Homo sapiens: one gene and its partners. The protein of the gene in region 2 interacts with the protein of the main gene of each other region in a pairwise test. Each region holds a gene or a part of one and is shown on either strand. Other genes may lie near its edges.

Evidence for each region.
Region 1: the proteins of PPP6R1 (region 2) and ANKRD52 interact in binary tests that used the Homo sapiens proteins (3 or more experiments, as listed by UniProt).
Region 3: the proteins of PPP6R1 (region 2) and PPP6C interact in binary tests that used the Homo sapiens proteins (3 or more experiments, as listed by UniProt).

What each region holds. Positions count from the first base shown.
Region 1 is NC_000012.12:56,248,361-56,255,384, forward strand, and holds part of ANKRD52 (serine/threonine-protein phosphatase 6 regulatory ankyrin repeat subunit C), read right to left. Parts: intron 6,593-7,024; coding exon 6,505-6,592; intron 6,361-6,504; coding exon 6,218-6,360; intron 5,920-6,217; coding exon 5,707-5,919; intron 5,441-5,706; coding exon 5,362-5,440; intron 5,043-5,361; coding exon 4,928-5,042; intron 4,727-4,927; coding exon 4,644-4,726; intron 4,538-4,643; coding exon 4,420-4,537; intron 4,211-4,419; coding exon 4,142-4,210; intron 3,956-4,141; coding exon 3,815-3,955; intron 3,736-3,814; coding exon 3,655-3,735; intron 511-3,654; coding exon 399-510; intron 207-398; coding exon 135-206; intron 1-134. UniProt on the Homo sapiens protein: Putative regulatory subunit of protein phosphatase 6 (PP6) that may be involved in the recognition of phosphoprotein substrates.
Region 2 is NC_000019.10:55,249,011-55,256,034, forward strand, and holds part of PPP6R1 (serine/threonine-protein phosphatase 6 regulatory subunit 1), read right to left. Parts: intron 6,764-7,024; exon of another isoform or gene 6,665-6,763; intron 4,582-6,664; exon of another isoform or gene 4,419-4,581; coding exon of another isoform or gene 4,416-4,418; intron 3,120-4,415; coding exon of another isoform or gene 3,084-3,119; intron 1-3,083. UniProt on the Homo sapiens protein: Regulatory subunit of protein phosphatase 6 (PP6). May function as a scaffolding PP6 subunit. Involved in the PP6-mediated dephosphorylation of NFKBIE opposing its degradation in response to TNF-alpha.
Region 3 is NC_000009.12:125,179,780-125,186,803, forward strand, and holds part of PPP6C (serine/threonine-protein phosphatase 6 catalytic subunit), read right to left. Parts: intron 1-7,024.

The sequences.
Region 1 (7,024 bases), on a different chromosome or scaffold from region 2:
TACCCTGCACTGTGCTTATCCCCTCTCCCACAAAAAGGCAGAAGGAAGGATAACTTCACAAGTGCTGGCACCTTTGTTAGGGCCTGGGAACAGGTAGGACAAGGAAGGCAACAGAAAAAAGACGTGGGACTCACAGCTAAGTGCAAAGGGCTGACTGGAATGGTGCTCTCCACATCCTCCAGGCAGTTAAAGGACATTTCTAAGAGCTGCAAAGGACAGGAAAGTAGGTGCTGAGACTCTGGAACTCCCAAGATAGTACCCCAGTCCCCGACTCGCAGTAATCCCCACTAAGCCTCTGGATCCAAAGACCACATTTGATTGAACCCTTAGTTTTGGAATCCACAAACCCTGTGCCCTGCCCCTGCCTCCCCTCCTGCAGGCCGGGCCCCAACACATACCAGTTCGAGGTTCTGTCTGTTGCCATAGGCGGCTGCATAGTGCACAGCTGTGTAGCCCTGCCTGTCCCGCAGGGAGGGGTCTGCACCGTTATCCAGTAAGAACTCCAGACAGCTGGGGAGCCGGGGGTAGACTGTGAGGCAGGGACAGGCCCAGCCCAGGAGGGCACAGTTCTGGGAGGGCCAGAGGAGAGGACCAAGGCCCTCCAGGCCTACCTGGCCGCCACCCGTCCTCAGCTCTAGGTAGGTTCTCTAAATCCTACCCATTCTTCAATGGCAGCTCCAGACCCACTTTACCTTCTCAAGGTCTGCCCTGAACCCCTCTGGCTTCAATGCCCTCCTTTATCCTCTGAATGCTCTCCTAGAGAACCTAGAGCATGATGTTCAGTTATCAGCCTTCTGCTGACCAACATGCTTTCCCCACCTCCAGGCACGCCAACCCCTGCCCTAGGATGCTTTCTCCTCCCAGCCCACCCGAATAAGTCCTGTTCATCTCAAACTCAGTCCCAGCTTCTCTCCTCTGTGAGGCCTTTCCCAGCCTTCCCTGGGGAAGATGCCTCTTCCTCTGTGCTCCCTTGGCAGTCTTCTCATACCTTAGTAGTAGTTGTAGTAGTAGTAATAATAATAAAGTAGCACTTACTGTCAAGCACAGTTCTAAGTACTTCATGTATATTAAATAATTTAATCCTCATAAAGATCCCATGAAGTAGATACTATTTTTATCCTTACTGTGGGTGATGAAATTGAGGCATAGAGAAGTAACTTGCTGAAGGTAATAGCTGAGCCTCTTGGATTTTAGTGTCCTTTTTAAAAAAATAAATCTTAAAAAAAAATTATTTAATTTACTTATTTTAAATGGAGACAGGGGCCTGGCTCGGTTGCTCACATCTTTAATTCCAGCACTTTAGGAGGCTGAGGTGGGCAGATCACCCGCGGTCAGGAGTTCGTGGCCAGCCTCGCCAACATGGCGAAACCCTGTTTCTACTAAAAATACAAAAATTAGGCTGGGCGTGGTGGCTCACGCCTGCAATCCTAGCACTTTGGGAGGCCAAGGCAGGTGGATCGCCTGAGCTCGGGAGTTCAAGACCAGCCTGGGCAACATGGTGAAACCCCGTCTGTACTAAAATACAAAAAATTAGCCAGGCGTGGCAGCGTGCTCCTGTAGTCCCAGCTACTCAGGAGGCTGAGGCAGAATTGCTTGAACCCAGGAGGTGGAGGTTGCAGTGAGCCAAGTTCATGCCACTGCACTCCAGCCTGGGCAACAGAGTGAGACTCGGTCTTCAAAAAAACAATTAGCTGGGCGTGGTGATAGGCACCTGTAATCCCAGCTACTCAGGAGGAAGAGGCAGGAGAATCGCTTGAACCCCGGAGGTAGAGGTTGCAGTGAGCTGAGATCGCGCAACTGCACTAGAGCCTGGGTGACAGAGCAAGACTCCATCTCAAATAAATAAATAAATTAATTAATTTATTTATTTATTTAATTAAATAAAATAGAGATGAGTTCTCATTATGTGTTAGCCAGGCTGGTCTCATACTCCTGGGCTCAAGCAATCCTCCCACCTCAGTGCTGGAATTACAGGCATGAGTCACTGTGCCTACCTGATTTTTGTGGGTTTTTTTTTTTTTTAGAGACGGGGTCTCACTAGGCTGCCCAGGCTGGGGTGCAGTGGCTATTCATAGGCATGATCATAGTGCACTACAGCCTCAAACTCCTGGGTTTGCATGATCCTCTTGCCTTACCTGCACCTGCCTCCTGAATAACTGGGAATATATGCATGTGCCACCGTGCCCAGCAAAAAATAAACTTTTTGTTTTAGAATATTATTAGATTTATAGAAAAATTGTGGGCTAGGTGTGGTGGCTCATATCTGTAATCCCAGCACTTTGGGAGTCTGAGGCAGGAGGATTGCTTGAGCCCAGGAGTTCGAGACCAGTGTGGGCAACACAGAGAGATCCCTGACCTACAAAATAAATTAATTAAAAAAAAAAAAAAAGAAAGAAAAAGAAAAATTGTGAAGATAGTACAGGGAGTTCTCACATAACCTATACCTAGTTTCCCGTCATTAACATCTTACATTAGTATGCATAAGTGTCCTTTTATTTATCTTTCCCAATAGATTATTAGCTTTCGAAAGACAGAAATTTGGGACAATTCATCCTTTTTAAATTTTTATTTAATTTTATTTATTTATTTGTTTTTTTGGAGACAGAGTCTCACTCTGTCGCCCAGGTTGGAGTGGATTAGTGTGATCTTGACTCACTGCAACCTCCACCTCCCTGGTTCAAGTGATTCTCCTGCCTTAGCCACCCGAGTAGCTGGGATTACAGGTGCCTGCCAACATGACCAGCTAATTTTTATATTTTTAGTAGAGACGGGGTTTCACCACGTTGGCCAGGCTGGTCTCGAACTCCTGACCTCAGATGATCTGCCTGCCTCGGCCTCCCAAAGTGCTGGGATTATAGGCGTGAACCACCACACCCGGCCTATTTTTAATTTTAATTTTTTTGAGACAGAGTCTTGTTCGGTTGCCCAGGCTGGAGTGCAGTGGCGTGATCTCGGCTCACTACAACCTCCACCTCCCTGGTTCAAGCAATTCTCCTGCCTCGGCCTCCTGAGTAGCTGGGATTATAGGCGTGTGCCACCACACCTGGTTAATTTTTTGTATTTTTAGTAGAGACGGGGTTTCACCATGTTGGTCAAGCTGGTCTTGAACTCCTAACCTCAGGTGATCTGCCTACCTCAGCCTCCCTAAGTGCTAGGATTACAAGCTTGAGCCACTACGCCCAGCCTCATCTTTTATCCTTAGTATCTAGCACAGTACTTGGAACCTAGTAAGTAAATATTTAATTAATGCTTGTGGAATAAACAAATTATTTTGTACATTTAGCTTTTCTAATCCTCTCAAGAAGACCAGCCGGGCGCGGTGAGCTGAGATCACACCACTGCATTCCAGCCTGGGCAACAGAGTGAGACTCTGTCTCCAAAAAAAAAAAAAAAAAAAAAATCCATTCCTTTAGGGAAGGAACTATGTCTCATACTTTTGGGTTTTTTTTTCCCCCTGAAGCTCCTGAGCTTCAATCTCATACTTTTGTCTTTGCCCACTATGGACTACACCCAGAGGGCTCAAGACACACTGCTGGCTGACCGGCAGGACAGCAGCAGTATAGGGTAGAGGTTCAGATTAGGTAGGAGGACAGTAGGGCCAGAGCTTGCATGGGTTGGGGAAAGCACATCCCAGGGGCCCTCTCTGCTACTCACAAGAAGGCCTCCTTCCTGCGGGACTCCTTCAGTGGCTCGTCCTCTTCGGCATCATGGCTGGAAGGTGTATGGGGTTCCGCTCTGGGGAAGAGAGAGAGAAAGTTAGGGCCAGGCTCAGGGAGGTGAATGGGGCTGAGAAGGACCAGACTGGTAGCCTCACCTCCTGTAAGTGTCAGAAGCGGCAGCGTAGTGGAGGGGAGAGCAGCCTTTACAGTCGGCCTCGTTGACACCTGCCCCAGCAGTCACCAATGTTACTGCACACTGGTAGCTACCGTTAGCAGCTGCATAGTGCAGTGGGGTCCTGGGGAAGAAGTGAAGGAGGGTGGGGAAGAGAATCAGAGACAGATACGAATGCAATCAGATGTGCAGCCAAATGCTGCTTTGTAACATTCTCCTTATTTAAGTCTCCAATCTAAACCCTTCCTCCCTCTACCATTTGTTTCTCTAATCAGATATTCCCTATGTTTACCCCTGCATATTAGCATACCTGCCAAATTTGTCCCTCCTCCTCAAGTCAGCTCCACTGCTCAACAGCAAATTAAGACATTCAACATTCCTAAAAGAAAGATGTGTTAAGAGAGTTACAGCCTCAAAGGGAAGCCACAGGCCCAGGGTGGGGCTAAGGAAGGATGGGACTAGCAAGCCCTTTCTGCTGTGACTGCTTTCATTGTGAGAGGGGGAATAGATCTGGGCAGGCAAGAATGAGGGGCCCAGACCTTTGCCCAGCTCCCTGCTCAAAGCATGGGAGAGAGAAAGAGAACTCACCCTCCGGAAGCAGCAGCATGAAGACAGGTACGGCCAAGGTTGTCAGGTGTATTGATGTCAAACCCAGCTGAAAGCACATGCTCATTGCTGAGTGAAGACACAATGCTGTACAACTGACCTGGAGGCACAGAACAGCCACAGGTCACATCTGAGAGTGTTCAGCAGGGAGGGAAAGGCCTTTGCTCTCCTATACACCTGCCAATCCCCAGCCCATCAGCACATACCTGAGGAAAGAAGCTTACGACAACAGTCAGAGAATCCAAAGAGAACAGCTAAGTGCAGGGGGAACATGTCATGGATGCCACGCCTAGAGAGAAGTTGAGGGACTCAGTCCTTGGGTCAAGGAGGGACCAAGTAAGACCTCTTCTGTGACCTACCACCACCCTAGAGTCAGGGTAGGAGGTTCTCCAAGGTGCCCTTTGGCAAGCTTATCTGTGCCTCCATGGTTGATGTGAGCAGTCTGTGCAGATCTGGGCAGCCCAGAAGTGGAGTCGGGGCCCTGACTCACCGGGCGGTATCTGCGCCATTGGTCATGAGGGTGCTGATGAGCAGCTCGTGTCCATATCGAGCAGCCACATGCAGTGGCGTGTTCCCAAATTTGTCGGCACAATCAATCTCGCTGCCTGTGAGGGGATGCACACACACAAGCTCAGGCAGACCTCAGGCTTAAGACCACTTTCGCGAGCTAGCCATGATTTGAGTGCCTACTATGTATGCATCAGGTGCCAGGCCCAGGATTCTACATATTTTATCCTGTTTCTAGGCCTTAGGAGACTGGGCAGGGCAGAGCAGGGCCATTTCCACAGGTCCCTTGGTCAGAGTTCCAAGGGCCTATCCTACTGGAAGAGGGCAGGAGAAGGAAGTTAGGAACCTCCCTAGATTCTAGAAATGAGTTCCTTGGGGGAGGAGGGGATGAGAGCACAAAGTCTCCCAGGTCCATACCATTCTGGATGAGGATCTGGGAGCGTGTGAAACGGCCATGGATTGCAGCCATGTGCAGAGGACTTTTCCCTTCTTTGCTCTGTGGAAACATGGTGGGTTTTTGTTTTTGTTTTTTTTTCCAGTGCAAAGCACAGAGAATGCCCTACCTCCCTTCCAAGGACATATCTCTAAGGACAAAAGGGTCATATGGCACCTTCTTAGCCCACTCTTTCCTGAGTCCCTGGCAAGGTCTGATTACCCTAGGAAGCAAGTGGATAATTCCCCAAGAGAGCTATCCAGATACAGTCAGGACCCCTAGATCCAAGTTTCGCTCCCCACTGGTCTAAGCCTTATCCCTTCAGGCACCTGGTAGTTGACGTCAGCCCCATTATTAACCAGTAGCTCCAAGCAGAGAGCGCCATTGGTGGAGACTGCAGCCACATGCAGTGGCGTGAAGCCCTTGTCATTCGGCTGGTTGACATTGGCTCCGGCATTCACCAGCTCAATAGCCACAGCATCCTGGCCCAGGTAGCAGGCGATGTGCAAAGCTGTGTTTCCAAAAGCATTGGGTTCATCGATCTGGATATTCAGGGGTGAGAGTAAGGTGGTATCAGTTTAAACAAAGTAGAAGCCAGCACATGTAGCCTCCAGATCCCAGAAATCCAACGACTGCCTCATTTCCTCTCGGGTTTATGACCCAAGGTACTAAGGTACTAAGGGCACTATGGCTAAGGTAAGCATTATTCAGACCCTCTCTACCACGTCCTTCCAACTTCCCAAAACTATACCAACATCCCAATACCTCATATCTCCGTAACAGACTATAATCTCCTACTTGCTGCCCATAGTTCCCAACCCCAGAGCTCAAAGCCCTGACCTCCGCTCCCATCCGAAGCAGGTACTTCACCACTTCAATCTGGCCACTGGCAGCAGCTGTATGGAGCAGCCCATAGCCCTTGCGGTCCTTGCAGCCGAGGTCTGCTCCCCGTGCCACCAGCAGTTTTAGGACCTCCAAGTGCCCTGAGAAAAGAGAAGACACTCTAAAGGAAGTAGAAGGTAAACTCTAAGACCCTACACTCCTCTCTTCAAAGGCTGCAACCCCACATCCCTGCCCTAGGAATCCTAAATGTCAAATTTCTGATTTTCCCGTGTATTCTCTCTCACCTAGAAAAGCTGCCCAATGCAGAGGCTGCCGCTCCTTTTTGTCACAGACATTCAGGCTGGCTCCCTTGTTGAGGAGCAGGTTCACCGTCTGCATCAGGATATGAAAGACACCTGTTCAGAGCTAGATTCGTGCCCTCAACCTACCTAAGAGCAGAGGCCTCATCTCCTGAAAAGGCTGAGGCAGCCTAATGCCTTTTTCCATGAGCAAAACAACCTGGAGGACTCGAGGGAACAGCAGAAGCAGGCACTAAGGAGGAGATACTGGAGAGATTTGGAACTTTAAGGGAAACAAGAGAGTCTCTTCAGGTGATCTGGTGGTTCTTAAACTCTTTTTTTTTTTTTTTTTGAGACAGTCTCGCTCTGTTACCCAGGCTGGAGTTCAGTGGCATGATTTCGGCTCATTGCAAGCTCCGCCTCCCGGGTTCACGCCATTCTCCTGCCTCAGTCTCCCGAGTAGCTGGGACTACAGGCGGCCGCCACCACACCCGGCTAATTTTTTGTATTTTTAGTAGAGACAGGG
Region 2 (7,024 bases):
GGCAACAATCTTGATATAACACTATATGGGTCCCTACACCTGGCCAATGACAGTTGAGGGTGGAGCAGAGGGAAGAGTTCCGTGACCAACGACAGTCATGGCGGCAGCAGGAGGACTAGGGGAGATAGCAGCAGCCTCCAGGCATTTGAACCCCTGCTCCTCTGGGGGGCCTGCCAGGTCCCAGTCCACAGCACCCAGTGACTCACCACTTACCCCTCACCAGTCCACTTTTCCCAATAATCCTTTGTTTTTGAGGAGTCTCACTCTGTTGCCCAGGCTGGAATGCAGTGGCACAATCTAGGTTCACCTCAACCTTCACCTCCCGGGTTCAGGCGATTCTTCCGCCTCAACCTCCCTAGTAGCTGGTACTACAAGCATCTGCCACCACACCCGGCTAATTTTTCTATTTTGGTAGAGATGGGATTTCACCACGTTAGCCAGGCTGGCCTTGAACTCCTAACCTCAGGTGATCCGCCCACCTGGGCCTCTCAAAGTGTTGGGATTACAGGCATGAGCCACCATGCCCAGACTCCCAATATTCCTTCTAAGGTTGGGTGTGGTGGCTCACGCCTATAATCCCAGCACTTTGGGAGGCCCAGGCAGGCAGATCACCCGGGGTCAGGAGTTTGACACCAGTCTGGCCAACATGATGAAACCCCGTGTCTACTAAAAATACAAAAATTAGCCGGGCATGGTGGTGTGTGCCTATAGTCCCAGCTACTCGGGAGGCTGAGGCAGGAGAACTGCCTGAACCCGGGAGCGGAGGTTGCAGTGAGTCGAGATTGCGCCACTGCACTCCAGCCTGGGTGGCAGAGCAACACTCTGTCTCGGAAAAAAAAAAAAATCCTTTTAAAGCACAAACATGAGTACCCGCACCTGCTCGGTGATGTGCACTCCACCAAGCCTGCATCCAGGCTCTCGTGCCCCTGCCCAGCCAGCTCACTGACTGACCTCCATGCCCACGGTGACCCCAGTGCCCTGGGGAGGCCGTGCCCCATGCCACCTCGCCAGTGCTCCTGGGGCTGCCACTTCAGGTGTCTCCTGCACAGCCCGTGGCTGCCTGAGGCACAGTGCTGGATGGATATCCAGGAGGCCCTGCGGGTCTGGGTGGATGGGGGCATTCCAGGCAATGATGTCGATGGTATCAGCCACTGCGCTCCAGCACCTGCACTGCGCTGACTACTCTGAAAAGGACTTCACAGCCATCACCTCCACCAACTCTCACAACCACCCTCCAGGGAATGGCCTTATTTTACAGGAGAGGAAACTGAGGCACACCAAAGTAAATGCCTATGCCCCGATCCAGGGGTTGGCGGGCAGTGAAGCTGGCACTCTCAGCTTTCAGAAGTTGTATTTTCAGGGTGCAGAGCCCTTGTCCCAGCACAGGGCCTGTGTAGTGGACACTTAAGGGATGAATGAGCGAGTTCCCGCTGAGCCGGCTCCAGCACTTGCTCTGCCTGAGGGACTAGCCCTGGCCACAGTGACCCCGACTCTCACCTCAGGGAGGAGCCTGCCATTTCCAGGCCCACCCTGAAGGGACCTGTCTGGATGGTAAACTCCCTGTCCACCTTGTCCCCAGCTGCTAGTGCTTACTCAACAGACATCCCTGGATTCAGGATGGAGGGCTGTGGTCCTCAGGACCCTCCCAGCCCAGCTGTGACAGCACAGTTCGGCCAGAGGCCTGAGTTCTCCTCCAACCCAGCACCACCAGAAATCTAGGGACTTATCAGGCCTCCCACCCCGACCCAGGCACCGCTGACCTCCCCAAACATAACCATCCCACCCCTTCTGCCTGCATGACCACCACTTGACGGCAGGCCCCCCACACTCGACCGCAGGCGACCCCTGCTCGTTCCCTCTCCCCACAGCCATGCAGAGCTTGCTGAAGGGAAAATCAGAACCGCCCTCTCATCGGGTCAGCGCCTGGGACCCTCAATGACCTCCCACTCCCTACTTGCCCTGGCCAAGCTGGCCTTCTGTTTTCAGAACACACTAAGCTTGGGTCTACCCCAGCGACTTTGTCCTAATAACTCACTTTCTCATCCTCAGATCTCTTACTAAGCATTCACCTCACAGAAGGGCCTTCCCTGGCCTGCCTGGCTCAAGCAGCCCCCAGCCCCGCCTTTGTCCACCACTGTCTCCCTGTCTCCCTGAGCTGTGCGTTCTGACCTGCCGCCTGGAAGCATCTCTGTGACACAGCAATGAAGCACTGGAGGTACACACTCGTGGCCCTACAATGCTTCCTCTAGAACCTTCCCCCTAGGTTACCATGGGCACCTGAGGGCAGCACCTAGCATGGAACCTGGCCCTGGCAATAAACGCTCACAAGTATTAGCTGAAAAGCAAACCTCATTTTCACAAGGCCCCAGCTCCTCCCAGGCAGGAGGCTGCCGTACCTGTCAGGGCGTTAGACGAAGTGAAATCACTCCCACTCCGGCCCCTCCCAGCCACTCCTACGGGGTCCCTAAATCAGGAGGTGGGGGAAAGTGCAAGATCGCCCTGGGCAGGCAATGGGTGTGTATTTTCCCCTGTGTCAAGAGTGACGAAGGCACCACCACCTCACAAGGAAATACAACTGTTTCCCTTCCTTGCTCCGGGAACCTCTGTGTGCACAGTGGTAACTCCCCACCTCCCCACTTCTGCCCAGATGCTAGACCTCCTCAAGGGACCATCCCCTACTTCCCAGCCCGCTTGACAAGGAATGCGACAGGCCGACCACCAAGTGTCCATGTCACAGATGAGAAAACTCAGGCTCAGCAAAGGTGACTCACCAGCGTGCTGAGGGAAGCGGGAGGGGGAATGGATTTCCTGATCTGGGTGTACCTGGGACCAGAATAATCTCAAGGGGCAACCGCCAAATTTATCATGACTCTGCCAATTTCCGGCCTAAGGCTGTGGCGAGCAAAGCACCGAGACGTGGCAAGCACACACACACAGCCTCTTTCTCCGTGGGAGACCAAGCAGGCTGATAGGCTGCCCATGCCATGCCAGCAAAGCCAGTCCCAAGGAACCACACACTGCAGGCCTCCAACTATGTGAAGCATCCAGAACAGGCAAATCCATAGAGACAGAAAAGAGCTTACAGGCTTCCAGGAGCTGGCGGGGATTGGGCGAAGTTCCTGAAAGGAAAGGGTGATTAAAAAAAAGTTCCAAAATCAATTGTGGTGATGTTTCCACAACGTTGTGAATACACTAAGAACCACTGAATTGTACCCTTTATTTATTATTTTTTTTCTTGAGACAGAGTCTCTCTCTGTCACCCAGCCTGGAGTGCAGTGGCGCGATCTCGGCTCACCGCAACCTCCAGCTCCTGGGTTCAAGCATATCTCCTGCCTCAGCCTCCCGAGTAGTGGGGACTACAGGTGCGCACCACCATTCTTGGCTGATTTTTTTTTTTTTTTTTTTTGAGACAGAGTTTCGCTCTGTCACCCAGGCTGGAGTGCAGCGGCGCGATCTCGGCTCACTGCAATCTCCGCCTCCCGGTTTTAAGCAATTCTCCCACCTCAGCCTGAGTACCTGGGATTACAGGAGTGCGCCACCACACCCAGCTAATTTTTGTGTGTGTTTTTTTAGTAAAGACGGGGTTTCACCATATTGGCCAGGCTGGTCTCGAACTACTGACCTTGTGATCCGCCTGCCTGGGCCTCCCAAAGCACTGGGATTACAGGCATGAATCACCACGCCCGGCCTAATTTTTGCATTTTTTTAGTACAGACGGGGTTTCACCACGTTGGCCAGGCTGGTCTTGAATGCCTGACCTCAAGTGATCTGCCTGCCTCGGCCTCCCAAAGTGCTGGGCTTACAGGCGTGAGCCACTGCGCCTGGCTGTACACTCTAAATGGATGAACTGTACAGAATATCTCAATAAAAACTGTTGGGGGAAAAAAAAAAACCTGCCTCAGGCCATCGGCCATGGCAGGGACAGAGCCAGGGCCAGGCTCAGGCCTTGCACTATGTCCCAGCGTCCGCAGAGCTGATGAGATGCCGGCCAGCCTGGCAGAGCTGAAGCTGCCAAGGCTCAGCCCTGGGGCACTCACCCAGGTTACCCCTTCCCCATCCCTCACCACCAACAGCTCTAAGCTAAGTGAGCCCCTCCACAGTGGGGACGGGATAGGAGCAGCACCAAGCCAGCATCTGTAGAAAATCCATGGACCCGCACTTGCAGAGACACTTGTCTCGGCTCCACATCAAGACCAAGTAAAGAATTCTTATTATTCCGACAGAGTCTCATGTGGAAGAGGGGCCCAGAGGGGTGGAGCCACATGGCTAGCAAGAGGCTTCCAGTGTGCCCTGGTCTCTAAACAACAGGCAGAAATTCTCACACTGAGGCCCACCGTTCACTTCTAAGATACCTGATTAAAGGGCACAGGCATGGCCCTCGGCCCCCAAACCCCCTACCCCTGGTACAGACTAACCATCTGCTTCGGGGAAAAGGTCAGGCTTCCCCTCCAAACCGAGCTCCCCAGACAACTGGGGCAGGGGCAGCCAGAATGAGACGGGAGGGTGCTCGCTGGTGCACGGCATCCAAGAACTTCGGCCCTGAGAACCCAGGCAGCGCCCTGAACTCTCCATCTCAAGTGGCTCCTCTGAAAATCAGAATAGACTGAAAGGCTCAAATGCAATTGAGTGGTCGACACTCTACAGACCTCAATTATCAGGCTCTAAACAGAATGAAGATGCAAATATGGAAGAACAGAAAAAAAGAGAAAAAAACTTTCCCCCACCACAACCTCTGAATGCACTATGGCCTGAAGCCCTCTCAGTCCCCTCTCCCAACCTAATGAAGCCTGCTAGAATCCCTGCGAATGGAGCAGGAGAGTGGGTTTCACTCGCACTCTCCTGGTGAACCTGGGCAGGCGCTTGATTTCTCTGAGTCTCATTTCCTCATCCGTGAAAAGGAGACACAGCCCACCAGGGCGGGCTGCTGTGAAAAGGCATTGAGCTAAAGCAGGTGGCCGTGACACAGCAGGAGCTCAGCAGGTGCAAGTCTCTTCCGGTCCAACCCTGAGGCCACGTCCAGATGCTTTCTGGCAGGACAGGTAGGGGACCGGTCACTACCCCAAAGGTGATGGTGCTAAACACAGAGGAGCAGGAGAAAGACTCTACCCATTTGCCTAAGTGACTCAAGTACTTTTCCTCAGACCATTCGGATACTACGGCAGGCGCCATGCACCCCGCCACCCCCATTCTTTGCAACTTTTAGCAACTTCAAGAAAGCGGAAGTGACTACCACTAGTTTTTAGCTACCGTTTGAAAACCATGAGTCTGGCTGCAAACGGAAGAAGGGGAAATTGTAAATGAGAAAGGAAGCCATTAAAAACGAAAACTACCTCTGCCGCTCTCCCTCCACCAGCTCTGCACTATTGCCTCTGGTTTCTGACTTAGCTGTGGTGTTTTAGGGCCTTCAACACCAGCCACCCCTCAAGGGCCTGCCAGCCCCTTCCTTCCCCTGCTTGGACAGGCACTAACTGCGGCTCCCACAGAGCCATCCCCACTGCTGCACGTATCCGCCCAAGCACAGCTCTGCCGCCAGGGAACCGGTGGGCCCATGCTTCATCTGTCACCCCTTCCCAACCTGCGCTGACCCACGAGCACCCAGAAATGGAGGTCATGGGCACAGATGCCTCAGGGGGCCTCCAGAAACAGCTGCCTGAGCTGTCCCAATGCTCAGCAGAAGCTCCAACGCCTGGCCCCCTGGCCGGTACCCTAGGAAGGGAAAGAGCCTGCTACCAGCAGCAGGCTGGCCAGCACCCAGCTCCTTAAAGGGCCCAGAGTCCGGAGGACAGCAAGACCATCTCCCTCTAATGTCCCCCAAGCCTCTGTCAGCTCTCAGCCAAATCTGAAAGGGGGCTGGGAACACCCAATTCCAGGGATGCAGTGACAGTAATGGCAACCCCACCACCTCTGGGCAGGACCTACGGTGTGTGCCGGCTGCAGAATCCGGCATCACCCACCCAGCAAGGAGGAACCAGGGACACCAATTTGATAGAAAGGGCCACTGGGGCCAGAGGAGAAGGGGGAGCGGCCCAAGGCCCAACAAGATGATGAGCTAGGGCTTTCCTGTGGCTTGGGAAAGCCTTGGGGAGGGTCCCCACTTAAAGAGAACCCTCAGTGCCTCCCCCTCTGGCCCCAGAAGCACACCCTCCCAAGGGAGCTAGCAGCCCTGGTCCAACCCCAGAGGATGGAATAACTAGGAAACAGAAGAGTCTAGAAACACTGGCCAAGGACTGGGACGGGGACTTGAACATCCACATTCAAATCGTCTCCTGAACTGGCCACAGGTTTAAAGGAAAGAAAGGAAAAGACCAATGAACGGATTTGAAATAGCTCTTTGGAAAAACAGAAAGGGGCAGAGTTAGGGTTACAGTGTGATCCAAAGTCAGAAAAGCTTGCATTCCCATTTGACCTCCCCAAACTGAAATCTCTGTGGCCTAGACCAAGGATCTCACCCCACCGAGCCCCAGTTTCCTTATCCGGGAAATACCTCACAGATGGGGTTACTATAAGGCAGCACTCTCTGGAGAAGGACCCACAAAACTGGTGTGCAAAGGGAAAACCACGGTTTGGCATGGAAAGGCAGGTGAGCCCCATCAAGCCGGGTGCCGAGTGATTCCCACTCTGGCAAGGCCCCTCACTCTCACCAAAGCTCTCAGGCCTCTCTCACCTCATCTCTTGCTACCTCCCGCGTGGGCGTCACACCTGACTGCCCTCAGCCGGGGCTGGGCTGCTCCCTCCTCCTTCCCGGAGCTCTTCGAGTCTGACTAGCTCCTCCTGGGTCCTTCAGGCCCCCACACAGACACCACTTCCTCCAGGGAGCCTCCCCCCCGCATCTGTGTTAGAGGCCTGCTCCACGCCGCTTCCACAGCATCCCGCAGTCACCCTGGAACAGCATGTGAGCCTCGGCTCTGTGACAGGATGTACCTGTTCAGTCATCTGCCTCCCCCTGAAACATGCCGACTTCCCAGGATCTAGCATAAGGCCAGGCCCAACTAAAGCTACTTGTTGAATTAATGAAAACTGAAGC
Region 3 (7,024 bases), on a different chromosome or scaffold from region 2:
CAAGTATCTGGGATTACAGGCACCTGCCACCACACCCAGCTAATTTTTATATTTTTAGTAGAGATGGGGTTTCACCACGTTGGCCAGGCTGGTCTCGAGCTCCTGACCTCAGGTGATCCACCCGCCTCAGCCTCCCAAAGTGCTAGGATTACAAGTGTGAGCATCACACCCAGCCCGAATATAATTTTTTAAAACAACTATTGCAACATAATTCACCTACATAAAATGCATCCCTTTGAAGGGTAAGAGTCAATGGTTTTCATTATATTCACAGTGGTGGCAACCATCACCATAATCAATTTTAGGACACTTTCATCACCCCAAAAAGAAACCATATACACATTAGCAGTCACTCCCCTCATCCCCATACCAACACCCCACAGCCCTATGTATTACCTCATAAATAATAATAATCACAACCTTGACCACAACCACTCAATCCAGTTAGTCCTTGTGGATAGACGGCTGTCTTTCCAGTCAATTTCAAAATATCAGTGTTGCACAGCATCCTACTTCTATTAATAATCCATTAGACCTATGATACATATTTATTTTTATAATAATTAGCATCCAAAGTTTGCAACCTATTTGCATTAAAGAACAAATATGCCAGGAACTGATGAATGATTCTAAGTTTGGCCTGTAATTTTTTCTTTTTTTGAGATGGAGTTTCGCTCTTGTCACCCAGGCTGCAGTGCAATGGCGTGATCTTGGCTCACTACACCCTCCGCCTCCCAGGTTCAAGCGATTCTCCTGCCTCAGCCCCCCAGTAGCTGGGATTACGGCACACGCCACCATGCCTGGTTAATTTTTGTATTTTTAGTAGAGACAGGGTTTCGCCATGTTGGCCAGGCTGGTCTCAAACTCCTGACCTCAGGTGATACACCCACCTTAGCCTCCCAAAGTGCTGGGGTTACAGGCGTGAGCCACTGTGTCTGGCCGGTTCCCATATTTCAATGTGCCAGAATTTTCGCTGACATGTAACTGGTTCTCCTAGTCCATAAGGCCTCCTAAACTTGAAGTCATCCCTGGTTATCACCCCATACACTATGTGCTAGCCTGAAAATAACAGTGGACTATAAACTGAAGAACATCGCTGTGAAACTCTGTCAATCTGAAAGATTGAGTGTCTGGAGAACACGTGTAAACTACCTAGCAGCAGCCTTCAACCAGGGCCCAGGCACACTAACTAGAGTAAAATTACAGCTGCGTCCTACGACTGCCACCTCTGCTGACCCCAACTGAGGATTTAGAGAGCTATGTCTCTAAGCCAAAGCTATTGCCTCTCATCTCTAGTTTGGCAGTAGCTTACAAATCGCTATCACGCGCACACAAAAATAAGAAGTCTATGCAATCTCACTATAAACGCTACGTGACTCAATCAACTACACTCACAGCGGCCTCAAAGAGCCCTGCCTTGTCATCATAGTAAAGACACATGCTCCTCTCCTCCCAAACCCTTTACAGCTTTATCCCAAATTTAGGGTAAACTATACCCCTTTCTCCTCATCGTGCCCAAATATTTTTTCTTTCTTTTTTTGTGTTCTGTTTTCTATTTATTTATTTTTTATTATACTTAAGTTCTGGGACACATGTGCAGAACGTGCAGGTTTGTTACTTAGGTATCCACGTGCCATGGTGGTTTCCTGCACCCATCAACCCATCATCTACAATCGGTATTTCTCCTAATGATATCCCTCCCTTTACCCCGGACCCCCTGACAGGCCCCAGCATGTGATGTTCCCCTCCCCTCTGCCCATATGTTCTCATTGTTCAACTCCCGCTTACGAGTGAGAACATGCGGTGTTTCGTTTTCTGTTCCTGTGTTAGTTTGCTGAGAATGATGGTTTCCAGCTTCATCCATGTCCCTGCAAAGTATTCCATGGTGTATATGTGCCACATTTTCTTTAACCAGTCTATCATCGATGGGCATTTGAGCTAGTTCCAAGTCTTTGCTATTGTGAATAGTGCTGCAGTAAACATGCAAGTGCATGCATCTTTATAGTAGAATGATTTATAATCCTTTGGGTATATACCCAGTAATGGGATTGCTGGGCCAAATGGCATTTCTAGTTCTAGATCCTTGAGGAATCGCTACACTGTCTTCCACAACAGTTGAACTAATTTGCACTCCCACCAACAGTGTAAAAGTGTTCCTATTTCTCCAAATCGTCTCCAGCACCTGTTGTTTCCTAACTTTTTAATGATTGCCATTCTAACTGGCGTGAGATGGTATCTCATTGCGGTTTTGATTTGCATTTCTTTAATGACCAGTGCTCTTTTTCATATGTTTGGTGCCCAACTACTTTCTAATCCTTGAACAGGAAGGGGTTCATAGCCATCATTCTTAGCAGACCTCTATGTCTCTTCTCTACCTTTTCCTCAAGACATTTGTTCACAGTTCCATTCTATTCTCTGTTCTGTCTCCCAGTTCCCTCTTGCCCTCACAAACACTGGGTTCTAAACTTTTAAAATTACTTGTTTAGTTGATCTTGTTATCTAAAACATACTACTTCCTTTATCTACTTTTACATACTGGTATTTATAAAACACTCTTAGCTTTAAAAAAAAAGATCTCACTGCCAGGTGTGGTGGCTCACACCTGTAAAATGAGCATTTTGGGAGGCCAAGGCAAGAAGATGGCTGGAGGCCCAGAGCTCAAGACTAGCTTGGGCAACATAGCAAAACCTCATCTCAACTAGCTAGCTAAGTAACTAACTAAATAAATATCTAGCTAACATTATATTTCACACAGTCTTTATATAAAGTCTCTACTATAATACAGATCACTGGGAATGAGAAGTTAGAAATCTGGAATGACCATGATATTCACACGCTTATGATCCAGAAGGTAGTATCTGTATCCTCAGGCCAGATCAGAGTTTCTCAACCATGGCACTACTAATTATTCATTGCAGGGGACTGCTTGCTGTCTTGTGGATGTTTAGCAAAATCTCCGACATCTACGCCTACTAGATACCCATAGTAACTTCCCACCCCTCCCCTGACCCAGCTGTGACAACCAAAAATGTCTCCAGACACTGCCAAAAATTCTTTGGGGGGCAAAATTGCCCCCAGTTGAGAACGACTGGTCTAGATCTTTCTCCTGCGTTTAATACTATTAGAACAGTGTTTAGAGCACATTTGGCAATCAACAAGTAGTTGTTATCTAAGTAACATAAGTATCCAAGAGTAATTCTGGACACCTCTATCTCAATGTCTTAGCTTGGCAGCATCTCAAACTCAATATGGCCCAAACCAAACTTCCCGTATTCCTTAATCTAGTTATAGTACTAAGTAATCCTTGCCAGAAACTAAAAAATTATGCTAAACTCTCTTCATCATAACCTAGACCAAATCTGTTAACAGGTGCCACTATACCTTCTTCATTTCCTTTCCAACACAACAATCACTTATCATTGCCTTATCTCAGACTCTCATATCACCGGGCCTACTGCTTCTATGACATTTTTCCTGCATTCCAATCCATGGTCCACAATGCTGCCAGAATAAACATTTCAAAAGCCTACTGTCATTCTCCTTCTTAAAAACTCCTCAAGCGTATTCCTCCATTTATGGCAGTGTTTCCCAAACACCAAATACCATTTTCATTATTTTGTCATATTCCTACCACATACAACAGTGTATCCCTGTAATAATTTTCTTTGAATCTACTTTTATTTTTAGTTAGCTACATTTTAAACAGTATCACGAATCACAGTATGATTTTTCCCTAAAATATAAAAACATTTCATAGTGTTCATGCACCACCTAAAAAATAACAATCTAAGTTTAACAGCCTACTCTTCTATGATTTGGCATCTTTCTTTCCAGTACCACCTCCAGCCATACCAAACCACTTCAAGTTCCCCGAACCAGCCATGTTCTTGCAAATTACATTATACTATTGCACATGGTGTTTATTCTGTTTGCATGTTCTTTCCTTCTCATTTTGTCTACCTGAACTCTGCCCCTCGTAACTGCTCCTTTATGAAATCATCTCTGACTCTAAAGTTACATACTGCTTCTTCTGTTTGCCAACACCCTGGTCAGCCTCTATTACAGTCTTTGTTTACCTCCTTACCTCCCTTACTATATTGAAAGCCCCTCAAAGGCAGACACAAGTATCCAATTCTGCCCCTGGCACCCACAGGGAACAGTACTCAACACAAGGAACCATGTAAATAAGTGTTTGTTGGCTGGGCACAGTGGCTCACACCTATAATCTCAGCATTTTGGGAGGCCAAGGCAGGAGAATCACCTGAAGCATTTGGGACCAGCCTGGACAGCATAGCAAGACGCTATCCCTTAAAAAAATTTTTTTTTTGCCAGGCGCGGTGGCTAACGCCTATAATCCCTGCACTTTGGGAGGCCAAGGCGGGTGGATCACGAGGTCAGGAGATTGAGACCATCCTGGCAAACACAGTGAAACCCCATCTTTACCAAAAATACCAAAAAACTAGCCAGGCATGGTGGCATGCATCTGTAGTCCCAGCTACTTGGGAGGCTGAGGCAGGAGAATTGTTTGAACCCAGGAGGCAGAGGTTGCAGTGAGCCGAGATCGCGCCATTACACTCCAGCCTGGTGACAGAGTGAGACTCCATCTCAAAAATAAAAATAATAATTAATCAGCTGGGCACACTATTGCACACCTGTACTCCCAGCTACTTTTGAGGCTGAGGCAGAAGGATCAATTGAGCCCAGGAGTTTGAGGTTGCAGCAAGCTACAACTGCACCACTGCACTCCACCCTGGGCAGCAGACTGAGACCCTACCTCAAAGAAAAAAAAAAAAAGAAGAAGAAGAAACAAGTATTTGTCATAAAGCAGTAAACAGTTTGAGTCAATAAACCTTTACTGATTATCACATACAGGGCAGTGTTCTAAAATTGTGGAAAACACAAATAAGGAATGGCCAAACACAGTGGCTCACATCTGTAATCCCAACACTTTGGGAGGCCGAGGTGGGCGGATCACCTGAGGCCAGAAGTTCGAGACCAGCCTGGCCAACATGGTGAAACCCCATCTCTACCAAAAAATATATATATACAAAAATTAGCTGGGTGTGGTAGTGCGCACCTGTAATCCCAGCTGAGGCAGAACTGCTTGAACCCAGGAGGTGGAGACTGCAGTGAGCTGAGATGGTACCACTGTACTCCAGCCTGGGCAATAGAGTTAGATTCAGTCTCAAAAAAAAAAAAAAAAAAAAAACCTCAGGTAAACATGTCACCCTTAAGAACTGTCCAAGAGATTAGACAACCTCCAAGTTATAGAACCCCTGCTCCCCAAAAATATTAATACTTAAATATAAGTATTCAGTAAACCTGCCTTTATCATTAATTCTTCCATTTAGCCAGGTATGGAATCTGTATCTTTTATTAATCTCTCTGAAATCTTTCTTGTGGATAAAATCACATGAGCTCTTTATAAGAAAGGTTACACTGTGGTCCATTTACTTTCACATATGTCATTTTTTTTTTTTTTTGAGACAGGGTCTCGCTCTGTTGGCCAGGCTGGAGTGCAGTGGCATGATCTCGGCTCACTGCAACCTCCATCTCCCAGGCTCAAGCAATTCTCCTGCCTCAGCCTCCCGGCCCACATATGTCATTCTTATTCCTTCAAAACTGTTATGTATGCCAGGCATGGTGGCTCACGCCTGTAATCCCAGCACTTTGGGAGGCTGAGAAGGGTGGATCACCTGAGGTCAGGAGTTTGAGACCAGCCTGGCCAACATGGTGAAACCCCATCTCTACTAAAAATACAAAAATTAGCCAGGAGTGGTGGTGGGTGCCTGTAATCCCAGCTACTCAGGAGGCTGAGGCAGGAGAATCGCTTGAATCCGGGAGGCGGAGGTTGCAGTGAGCTGAGAACGTGCACCTGCACTCTAGCCTGGGCAACAGAGCAAGACTCCGTCTCAAAAAAACAAACTAACAGGCCAGGCTCACACCTATAATCCCAGCACTTTGGGAGGCCGAGGTGGGTGCATCATCTGAGGTGAGGAGTTCGAGACCAGCCTGAACAACATGGGGAAACCTGGTCTCTACTAAAAATACAAAATTAACTGGGCGTGGTGGCACATGCCTGTAATCACAGCTACTCAGGAAGGCTGAGGCAGGAGAATCGCTTGAACCCGGGAGGCAGAGGTTGCAGTGAGCCAAGCTCACGCCATTGCACTCCACCCTGAGCAACAAGAGCGAACAAACAAACAAAAACAGTTATGTAGATTTGATCCAGTACTAGTGATGTGACCATTTCCAACTTAGCGAAACAGAAATTGTGATTAAATCTGGAACATCGTATGCATTTAGTATTTTATCTTCTAATCAATTTAAAACACAAGTAAATTTCTGTCTTCTTTTCTACAGAACAAATCTTTTCCATCTTGCTCATTAAGTGGCCTCAATGATTACTTTTCTTAATAGAATGTTTTATTTTGCCTTTACAGCCTCAGAAAAAGTACTCCTGGCATACTTTCTTGGCCTAATTTTAGGTTGCACTTCATGCCAAGAAACAGAAAAAAATTAAATTTCTTTAAATACACCAGAGATGAGCAACACAACAAATTAATCTGATAAAAGCATTTCCAAGACAGAAAAAAAAGTCTCTACCTATAAAGAAAAATTCAGAATACTTTTGTCTTGGTTGCCCAAAACATATATTTTTAAGTTTATTAAGAAATGGATACAGGCCAAGTATAGTGGCTCATGCCTGTTATCCCAGCATTTTGGGAAGCCAAGGTGGGAGGATCGCTTGAGCCCAGGAGTTCAAGACTGGCCTGGGTAACATAGCAAGACCCTGTCTCTACCAAAAAAATAAATAAAAATTAGCTGGTCATGGGGGCATGTGCCTGTGGTCCCAGCTTCTCAGGAGGCTAAGGTGGGAGGACTGCCTGAGCCCAGGAGGTCGAGGCTGCAATGAGCCATGATTGTGCCACCACACTACAGCATGGGTGAGAGTGAGACCATGTCCCCGCTCCCCCACCAAAAAAAAGATTAAAAATTTTTTTAAGAAAAAAAAAGAAACAAA